2 separate regions of the Homo sapiens genome follow, and region 1 is linked to region 2. The links come from fine-mapping of genetic effects on gene expression. A gene starts in region 2. The other region holds a variant in brackets. All regions are shown on one strand. Distances are between the middles of the regions.

Region 1 (5,374 bases), 39 kb after region 2:
CGCTGCTAATAACAGTAATAATAACAATGGCAGCGACCATTGCTGCAGAGGTTACTGTGTGCCAGGCACCATTCCCAGCGCCACCCGTCATTCTCAGTCACGGGAGATGGCTGCTGTTTTCCTCTCCATTTTGCCCTGAGGAAACTGAGACCCAGAGTGGTTAAGTCACTGGCCCAAGCCACACAGCCGGGAAGCAGCCCCTGAGGCTGGTTCCTGACTCCACTGCCTCTCGGCCCTGTGGGGTCAACCCTCTGTCCCCCTCTCCGCTATTGCCATCTTCACCCCCAGAGCTCCACACCCTCGGGTCCTACTGCTGACCTCAGACCCACAGGGCCCTGCCAGCCCCCAGGCCTCTGCCTGTGCTCTTCTTTCTGCCTGGAGTGCTCTTCCCGTGGCCGGCTCCCCACCCACTCCTCGGGCCTCAGTGGAAAAGCCCCCTCTTCACAAAGGCCAGCCCTGGTGGCCCATCTTCCCCCCGCATCAGGACCCCGTCTCGCCTTCCTGCTCACTCATTCATTGAATGCAACTGTACTGAGCATGCGCTGAGTGCCGTCTGGGCCAGGGATGAAACAGAGAATGAGGACAGCGCGGTCCCAGCTTTGGCAGACCTGACCTCCGGCACAGGGTGTGCGTTCTTGGGCACAGCTACCAGCATGGCCGGTGCTGTCATCTGACCTTCTCCTTTCCATCCTCCTTCTTAAATATTCATGAGCTCATGGGATCGTGCCTGAGATTAGCTGGTCTTCCCGTATGACCCTGGAGAATCACTGATCGTCGTCGTCACCCAAGTGAATCCTTGTTGCGCTGCCCCTAGGTCCCCCTCATCTTGGGCTCTCCCCACCCAGCATCTGCCATTTCCACCCTCAGGAAATCCCTCCTGCTCCTCAGTGGGAAGACAGAAGCACCAGAGTGGCTTCAAAGGTGAGTCCTCAACTGACAGAGCTTAGGGCCGGTGTGGCAGATGGCATGCCCTGAACTGGCTCCCATGCTTCCCAGAATGGCCGCTATCTGTGGAGTTCTGTGGAGCACAGGCCTAGTTTGAGCCCCTCAAGACCAAGTTTTGAGTCTCCTCATTTTACTGGTTTCTCTTTTCTGAACATTTTCCAACTTGGTGTTTCCATTAAGCTGTGGGGCTCAGAACGTGGTTTCATTGATCAATGACAAATCAAGCAGGACCATCACCTCCCACATTCTGTAGACTATGCCCTTATTAATGTGACCCAAGATTGCAATATAGAAAGATCATCATCCTCTTGCCTCTCCCACTGATCCTAGCTCTAAGGCAGTGGTTCTCCCCAGCCTACACAATGCAATCATTTGAGAATTTAAAAAATCCAGGATTATCATCTCTGGAGATGGTCTCAGGTGATTACGATGGGTAGCCAGAACCAAAAGATGGAGATGCTGCTGTCCCATGGCCTCCTAGTCCTCTGAGCCCCAGCCACTATCCCTAACTCCTTAAGTCCCTGGTCTCCAGGAGTTTAAGGGTGACAGTCGGCATTTATGCCAGCTGCTAACCATGGTTCCCAAAGTGTGTTCCAGGGAGCAGTAGTGCTGCAGAGTGCAAAGCTGCACATCTCTTTCCAACTCCACTGTTCAGAAGTATTACACTGGTAACGTGACATTGATCATGGTGGGAGTGTTCACGCCACAGATATTGGTGGACTGCAAAACAGGGCTTTCCACAGTGCCCCCCAAGGCTGGTGGTTGGTGGTGGTTGTTTTTTCTTGACATGGAGTCTCGCTCTGTCACCCAGGCTGGAGTGCAATGGCATGATCTCGGCTCACTGCAACCTCCACCTCTCACATTCAAGTGATTCTCCTGCCTCAGCCTCCTGAGTAGCTGGGATTACAGGTGCCTGCCACCACACCTGGCTAATTTTTGTATTTTTAGCAGAGGCAGGGTTTCACCGTGTTGACCAGGCTGGTCTCAAACTCCTGACCTCGTGATCCGCCCACCTCAGCCTCCCAGAGTGCTGGGATTACAGGCGTGAGCCACCACGCCCGGCCCCAAGACTGGTTGTTAAACATTTGTCAACACAGCACTGTCCTGACCACCCACTCCTCTCACCCTCTGGACTCTGTCACAGCCACCCATTGATCAAAAGCAACCAGAAGCCAGCTGGCCAAAGCGCGTAAGGGTGCAGAGCCTGGGGCTCAGCCTCCTGGAGCTCAGAGCAGGACAGAGGAGGTGGAAAATGGATGGGGGAAGCCAGTAGAAAATGATCAGCCTGCCCACACCTGCTCTCAGGGAGACATGACACGTGCAGTCAACATGTTCCTCTGCGTGAGGCAGACCTGCATGCCAGCACTGAGCCAGGCGACCACCTGGTAGCTGGATGATCCATCAAGGAGGCTCTGGTGCCCTGCTTATGTAATAGACCACGTCAGCCCCATGTACTAGAACCTCTTTTTAATTTTTTGGAATAGTGATAACATCTACTCAAAGAAAACGATGCTCCATTTTGATTGATTCATCTCTGACACATTCCTAGGCCAGGAGTCAGAAGCTCTCACACTTGAGCATACATCAGAACCCCTGGGTAGGGGGGAGGTTAAGAACATGATTGCAGCCGGGCACGGTGGCTCAGGCCTGTAATCCCAGCACTTTGGGAGGCCGAGGCGGGTGGATCACCTGAGGTCGGGAGTTCGAGACCAGCTTGATCAACAGGGAGAAACCCCATCTCTACTAAAAGTACAAAATTAGCTGGGCGTGGTCGTCCATGCCTGTAATCCCAGCTACTTGGGAGGCTGAGGCAGGAGAATCACTTGAACCCAGGAGGTGGAGGTTGTGGTGAGCCGAGATTGTGCCATTGCACTCCAGCCTGGGCAACAAGAGCAAAACTCCGTCTCGAAGAAAAGAAAAACGATTGCTGCGCCCCAGAGTCAGACCAGTGTTTCTGATTCTGTGAGTCGGGAGGATGAAGGGTGCCCACGAACTTGGATTTCAAAATCCCCAGGTGCTGCTGTCCTGGCACGCCACTTTCAGAATTCACTGCTGCATG[T/C]AGACTAAACTGTAATACTCCCCTCCTCTGACAAAGCCAAAGTGGCTGGCTGTGTTATCACCCCAGCAGGCATGGAGGAAGGGCCGGGCCTCCTCCTCGTGGATCTAGGTGGCGTGCGTGGACCAGGGTTTGCAGTGAATGAAAGGCCAGGTGTTTGCAAAGAGGGCACCAGATATGGGGAGCCCTGGGCGACCTGCCCAGGAATCCTCCATGAGGTGCCGGGGCAGTACTGCAGCCCATGTATTTCAAGGATATTCAAACCGAAATGTCCTGAATGTCAAGGATAACTTGCCGAGAACAAGAGGAAGAGGCCTTGTCTACTCAGAAACCAGGAACTTACAGACCAAGCCCCACCCCGGCAGAGGAAGGAAACAGGAAGTCGGAAGAGAAGTCTAGGGAGAGAAACAGTCACGTCCAGGCTAAGGAAGATGCCACATGTCAAGGCAGAGGAATTTGCCTCTCAAAGCAGGAGTGTGGCTGAATCTCAGAGACACAACATCAAAACAAACCAGACGCAAGAGAGGACACTCTGTGTGATTCCATTTATGTCAAGCTCAGAACAGGCAAAACTACTCTGTGGGGACAAAAAGCAGAAAGGGGTCAAAAAACTGAGGGTCCCAGGCCGGGCGCGGTGGCTCACACCTGTAATCCCAGCACTTTGGGAGGCTGAGGAGGGCGGATCACGAGGTCAGGAAATTGAGACCATCCTGGCTAACATGGTAAAACCCCATCTCTACTAAAAATACAAAAAATTAGCCGGGCGCTGTGGCGGGCGCCTGTAGTCCCAGCTACTTGGGAGGTGGAGGCAGGAGAATGGTGTGAACCTGGGAGGCGGAGCTTGCAGTGAGCCGAGATCGCGCCACTGCACTCCAGCCTGGGCACAGAGCCAGACTCCGTCTCAAAAAAAAAAAAAAACAAAACTGAGGGGCCCCAAGGAAGGCTTCCAGGAGGCTGGGCGTACTCCCCGTCTTGTCCTGGGTGATGTTCACAGGAACAGGCATCTGCAGAGATTCACGCTGCTGCCCCCTTCAGCGTGGAACTCATCGCTCAGCCTGTGCCTACCCACACTCAGTTCCACGGATTGACTGCATGTTTGCTGAGGCCTCCTTGTCCTGCTGGGCTCTGGGGACACAGCTGGGGAGGAAAAAGTCACCATCCCTGCCCTGACTGTACAGCATCCTCAGCGACAACACGAACCCAGTGTGCTCAGACAGCCCAAACCAAGGTGGCTTCGAGGAGGCAGGTGGAGGTGGCCAGAGGATGCCGGTCAGGAACTCGGAGGAGTTAGCAGGGTGAGAAGATGCTTTAGAGATCTTAGAAGACAAGGAGGCTCTCCCCAGGAGGGCGAGGGAGGGACTTGTGCTCCAGGCAGAAAAGACAGTTTGTGCAGAAGGACAGAAATGGCGTGTCCTCAGAGGACAGTGGGCTTTCAGTACGGCTGGAACATGAGGTCCAAGGTGGGAACGAGTCAGAGGTCCAGCTGAGGAGACCCGCAGGGCTGGGGGATAGGAGGTCTGTGGCTCAGCTGAGTCTAAACTTTTCCTCTGAAGGCCGGGCAGTCATCAAAGCGCTGTAAGCAAGGGAGGGGCGTGGCCTGCTTTGCAGGTAGAAAGCCCGCTTGGTAGCAGGGAGCAGGGGGCAGGATGCTGAAAGGCTGCTGTGGAAACCCCGGTGCAGTGGGGGCAGCCCTCTGGAAAAGTGGGTGCAGTTTCTAATACACATCACCCTCACCTTCCCTGTGGCCTAGAAGTGCCGCTTCTCAGTCTTCACCCAAATGCCCAAATGAAAACAGATGGCACACAAAGACTCCCATGGGAACGGCCCGGCAGCAAGCTGGTGACAGCGAGCCTCCATCGCCGGGAAACAGAGCTGCAGGTGTTCAGGCAGGGGACGGGTTCAGCAGTGAGAAGGGGGAACCGCTGGTCTGCACATCGGTGTGGTGACCAGCAGAGACGCAATGTCGAGCCACAGAAGCCAGGCACAAGAGAGAACGTCCTGCGCGGTTCCATCTATGCCAACATCGAGAACAGGCACAACTGATGTATGGGACGGAAGTCAGAAAAGGGGTTGACTGCTGAGCCGGGCCCGGTGGCTCACGCTTGTAATCCCAGCACGGGAGGCCAAAGCGGGATGATCACTTGAGCCCAGGAGTTTGAGACCAGCCTGGGCAACGTGACACGGGGCACACCGGCAGGAATGCCTTCTTTTTTTTTTTTTTTTTTTTTTTTTTTGAGAGGCAGTCTCACTCTGTTGCCCAGGCTGGAGTGCAATGGCACGATGTCGGCTCACTGCAGCCTCCACCTCCCAGGATCAAGCGATTCTTCTGCCCTCAGCCTCCCGAGTAGCTGGGATTACAGGCACACGCCACCA
Region 2 (5,374 bases):
AGGTTTAATCGGATTATGGTTCCACAAGCTGTACAGAAGACGTAGTGGCTTCTGCTTCTGGAGAGGCCTCAGGAGGCTTCCATTCATGGCGGAAGGCAAAGGGGGAGTGAGGAGCTTCACATAGCCAGAGCAGGAGAGAGGGGGTGGTGATGCACACTTCTAAACAACCGGATCTCCTGAGAACTCACTGTAGGGTACCAAGCGGGGATGGTGCTAACCCATTTATGAGAACTCTGCCCCTATGATCCAATCATTTCTTACCAGGCGCCACCTCCAACACTGAGGATTACAACTAGACATGAGATTTGGTTGGACACAGATCCAAACCATATGAGCTATATTAACAATATTACATCTTCCAATCCATGAACCATGCATGGACCATTCCATTTGTTTAGGTCTTCTTTAATTTCCTTCAATACTGTTCTGTGGTTTTCCATCTACCAGTCTCACACTTCCTTGGTTAAACATGTTTCTTTTATCCCTTCAGATGTTGTTGTAAATAGAATTGTTTCTTTAATTTCATTTTTGGATTGGGGCAGTCTTTTGAAATAAGGACATGAGTGGGAAAAAGCAGAGGATGGCTGTTGACGCCTAGAGAAAAAAGTATAAACACAGAGAAAAAAAAAACAGAAGCCAGAAATTACATAAAAAGGAAGGCACCGGGAAAGATGAGAAAGAACAGGGTTGTGGGAGTACTACACTTAGCAAATGCTTAAGCAAAGTCAAGCTTTCAAGACAAGATTCCTAAAGCAAGGCAGGAGTATCCTAGGACAGACAAAAGCTCACTCGACAAGGCAAAGAGACAAACACCAGAGTTTGGACCCCACCAACTCCCTTAGCCAGCTGGCAATATGGTTTCACCACTTCTTAGAAAAGAGGAATGGAGAGGTGTCCTCAAAAGCCACCACTAGGCTTTCAGAATGTTTTGTGTGTCTGTGTCTTGGCAGAATGAGCCAAACGTACTTTCTTCGTGCCCCATAAGATGAGACACACCCAGCAAAGGCTGTCCTCATACAGAACTACCTCCAGGTGTCTTTTATACTGCAAGACCTGCACCAAAGGGTTCTACCTATAGAAATCCTAGCACCTAGACATAGTCAACCAAGTACATGGCTCCCTCACCCTCCAACCAAAGATGCCATATTTCCATCAGAGTGGAACAAAATCCCACTGTGTTCCTAATGCCTCCTGCAATTTTGCATGTGGGAGACATGGCTGGTATGTGACATTCTCTTCTACAGATTGTAATGGATTGGGGAAGGAGGGGGAACTAGAGTTCAGGCCTATCTTTCTAGAGGACAAAATAAATATGCCTTGATAACTGCAATTATCTGAAAACTATTTCAAAGAAAACTCTTTGTCTCATTCTGGCATTTGCTCAAGGGTATGGCTTTCCATCAGTCTCTCTGTCTCCATGTCTCTTTTACATACATATGTATGTGTATATGCGTGCGTATGTGTACATACATCCATACATATAGACATATTCTCTCTCTCTCCACACACACTCACACACCCCTCCAACCTCTGTGGCTCTGAGCGTCATGTGTGTAAGACACTGACGCGAATGGTGAGTGCCTAGGCAGGGGTCAAACAAAGGCTACCTACCATGCCAGAGGATTGCCACAAACACCTCTTAAGCAAGCATATTCCTTGGCTCCTCCCAGACACACTGAATCTGAATCTCTAGGATTCTGATTTCGGAGCCCAGGAATCCTCCGGTGCAGGAGTTCCCAGGTGACTCTGATGCACCGGGAGGCTGGAGGCGCTCGGATCTAGAGAGGAGGCGGCACTTGTGCAGTGCAGTCGGGAAAGAGAGGAGGGGCTGGGCCGGTGCCTTTAGGCGGTCAGGTGTTAGGACCGGAGTACAAGCCGCCAGCCGCGCGGGAGCAGGCCCCGAGGCAGCCCAGCCGCGGGGCAGTAACCTTTAGCCACACTTGGCCTCCGGCCGCCGCCAGAGCCGCTCCGCCCCCGCCGCCTCGCCCCCACCGCCCCGCCCTCCTATTGGCCGCGTCCCCAGCCGGGCTCGCGGCCTCGGCCAATGGGGCCGGCGCGCGCCGGAAGCCGGAAGCGCGGCAGCGGCGGCGGCGCTCCCCCTCGGCAGCTGTTGTGGGGCACCATGCGAGGCTTCGGGCCAGGCTTGACGGCCAGGCGTCTCCTCCCGCTGCGGTTGCCCCCGCGGCCGCCCGGGCCCCGGCTGGCGAGCGGGCAGGCGGCCGGCGCCCTGGAGCGGGCCATGGACGAGCTGCTGCGCCGCGCGGTGCCGCCGACGCCGGCCTACGAGCTGCGCGAGAAGACACCGGCGCCCGCCGAGGGTCAGTGCGCGGACTTCGTGAGCTTCTACGGTGGGCTGGCCGAGACGGCCCAGCGGGCCGAACTGCTGGGCCGCCTGGCGCGGGGCTTCGGCGTGGACCACGGCCAGGTGGCGGAGCAGAGCGCCGGCGTGCTCCATCTGCGCCAGCAGCAGCGGGAGGCGGCGGTGCTGCTGCAGGCCGAGGACCGGCTGCGCTACGCGCTGGTGCCGCGCTATCGCGGCCTCTTCCACCACATCAGCAAGCTGGACGGCGGCGTGCGCTTCCTGGTGCAGCTGCGGGCCGACCTGCTGGAGGCGCAGGCCCTCAAGCTGGTGGAGGGGCCGGACGTCCGGGTAAGGGGCCGCCGTCGATCCCCCGGCAGCGCGGACTGGCCGCCCTCCTCGAGTAGTCCTCACTTGCCCCCTCCAAGTCCCACACACCCCGCCTTCCCTGCCCGATAGCACGCTCACTTCGCCCGCAGTTACCGCCTGCCAACTGTGTCCCCTTCCCACGCTGTCTGAGTCCTGGCCTCGTCAGAGCACACCCCCGCCTTCCTCCAGTCTGTCCTTGAAGTCCTCACTTGTATAGTGTTTACTAAATACTCAGCACTTGGTGGTCTTTAAGGTAGCTGTCACCTCTCGTACCTGATTAGTGTGTGCTCTACAGTCTTTTGAAATTATTGTAGCTGAGAAGTGTTTCATCTATATGGTATACCTGAACTAGAGCATCAGGCAGCCTTCTGAGACCCTGGATGGTGTTTCAGAAGTTCACTGGGCACCCGCTATGTGTGAGACATTGTCCTGAGAAGTCCTGTGAAATGCACAAAGGTAAATAGGACTCAAGGTCACCACCACCACCCAGGAGTCTCCATGGCTTCTGGCCTTGTCTGTGCTCCATGACTTTTGGGAGGGCATTTAACTCCCTGCGTTCAGTACTTAATGTGATGATTCTGAGTTGACTTGAGGTAATCAGGCATTAGCACAGTTCATTCATGTTAAATGCAGACACATACTTTGAGATTTAAATGATTATGACCCGAAAGAAGGCCTAGAGCAACATATACTCTTCTTTTATACTGTTAGTATTAAATACGGCGAAAAACTAACCTGCCCTTTTTTTATTTTTATTTTTGTTGCCCAGACTGGAGTACAGTGGTGTTATCACGGCTCACTGCAGCCTCGACTTCCCCAGGCTCAAGCAATCTTCCCACCTCAGCCTCCTGAGTAGCTGGGACTACAGGTGCAGGCCACCATGCCCGGCTAATTTTTTTTTTTTTTTTTTTTTTTTGTAGAGAGGGCGTTTCACCATGTGGCCCAGGCTTAACCTGCCCTTTTAATGAACGAAAAATGACGTAAATGTTTCAGGAAGTTTTGGACATTCAGAAGTTTGTTATGTGCAGTTGGTGTTAAAAAAAAATTGAACACTTGAATGATTATGACTTGACCCATTTAAGAACTCTAATACTGGTTTAATAGTTTACATTCCTTCAGTCTTACGTGGGTGATAACACGTATCCCTTTTACAGTAAAGGAGAACATGCTGAGGTTGTGTTACTTGTCCTGAAATTCAGAGCGAAAAGCTCTTGCTGATCACCCACCCTAATCCAGGGTTATTTGCACTACGCTTTATATCACTGTCTTACCGTTAATCAGATGTTTATTAGAAACTTTCTTTTTTGGCTACTTAGATGCATAAAATTGGGCATAATTAAGTATGGGATTAATGTCAAGAGTGACAACAGTGGCCATGATTTGATTCCCCGTGATAGCTGGTTAATTTACAGCGCTAAGTGTTACTGAGGGCCAGGCATCTTTGGCCGTAAGATTCTCAGACAGAAAGCCCACAGTTGCTAATTGCATGACACAGAATCAGTCATGAATTCTTACTGTGTTGAATTATCATGTTCTGGGCTCAAGCCTAGTCTGAATAGCTGAGTTTTTCTGATCCACACTTGGACATAGTACTTGCAGTATATCATCCCCCCATGTAAATGATCAGCTCCTCGAAAACTGGGAAACTTGTCTTTAAATTTCTTGCATAGCAGAATGATGAATGAATCATTGCAATAGATTCCTGGGTGTCCTGGCATAAGACACACTTGACACACTAATCATTCAGCATTTGTGTGGAGGTGAGTCTGCCCCACACTCAGTCATAGATTTTTGAGCCTGAGAGAAAGCCATGAAGGACTTGAAAGGTTTCTGCCCAGCTGAGAGGGTCCTCATATCAGACATTTGGACAGCTTTGTCCCTCATTGATTTCTCACATCCGGTCCAATTCTGAATTCTCTGGTTCTGTGAGATGCTGTGGAATACATCCTTTTGTTCTTCCCCACTCAAGAAAACTCTTGGTTATCGCGTCATTGGGAAGGAACACGTTGCATGGCAACTGAAGACACTCACATCCAGACTTGACTGTTGAGAGAAAGGAGCTGGCCCCTGGGAAATACAGAGGCTGCTGAGTCCTTAGACATTCACAAGTTTCCTTGCTTTTTGACCAAGGCTATTTACAGAAGGGAAAAAAACATTGCATACTGTAATGCTAGGCCAAAAGTCCTGTGGACCAGAGGTGTTTATCAAACAGAATGAATAACGACAGTCTGATCTTTGCCTCTGCATATGGTTTGGACATAATGGCTTCAGGAGCCTTTCTGTGATTGCTTTATTGTGCCCCTTCCATTTCTTTACCTAGAAACCCCAGCCTTATATTCAGTGCATGTAACTGTTAGTAGCTGAACCTATTAATTCCCTTCCCCTTCCCTTGTTCTACGTAGTTGTTTTCTCATATATACACATATATATGTATGTGTATATGTGTGTGTGTGTGTGTGCGTGCGTATATATATATATATATATATATATATATATATATGGTTTTTTGTTTTGTTGTTTACGGTTTTTTGTTTGTGTTTATTTTTTTGTTCATGTTTATGTTTTTTCTTGTTACGTTTCCCAGGCTGGTCTTGAACTCCTGGCCTCAAGCAAGCAATCCTCCAATCCCAAGTGCTGGGATTATAGATAGGTGTGAGCCCAGATGTAATTTTTTTAAAATCCCTGTCGCTTAAATCAGTCTTAGAA

Evidence for each region. PIP is the estimated chance that this variant, and not a neighbour inherited with it, causes the effect. A credible set is the group of variants that fine-mapping cannot tell apart.
Region 1: its variant is the best candidate, but not a certain one, in a credible set for the expression of MLYCD in thyroid (GTEx, PIP 0.79).

Annotation. Positions count from the first base shown.
Region 1 is chr16:83,936,264-83,941,637 of GRCh38, forward strand. No RefSeq gene overlaps it. Among named protein-coding and RNA genes, the nearest start is that of OSGIN1, 14 kb to the right of the region's middle. The variant T/C (reference allele first, on the strand shown) is at 3,005.
Region 2 is chr16:83,897,023-83,902,396 of GRCh38, forward strand. MLYCD (malonyl-CoA decarboxylase) reads left to right here and starts at 2,093. Exons shown (of 5, transcript NM_012213.3): 1 at 2,093-2,650. The coding sequence starts at 2,123. RefSeq lists silencers at 1,863-2,292, 2,593-2,762.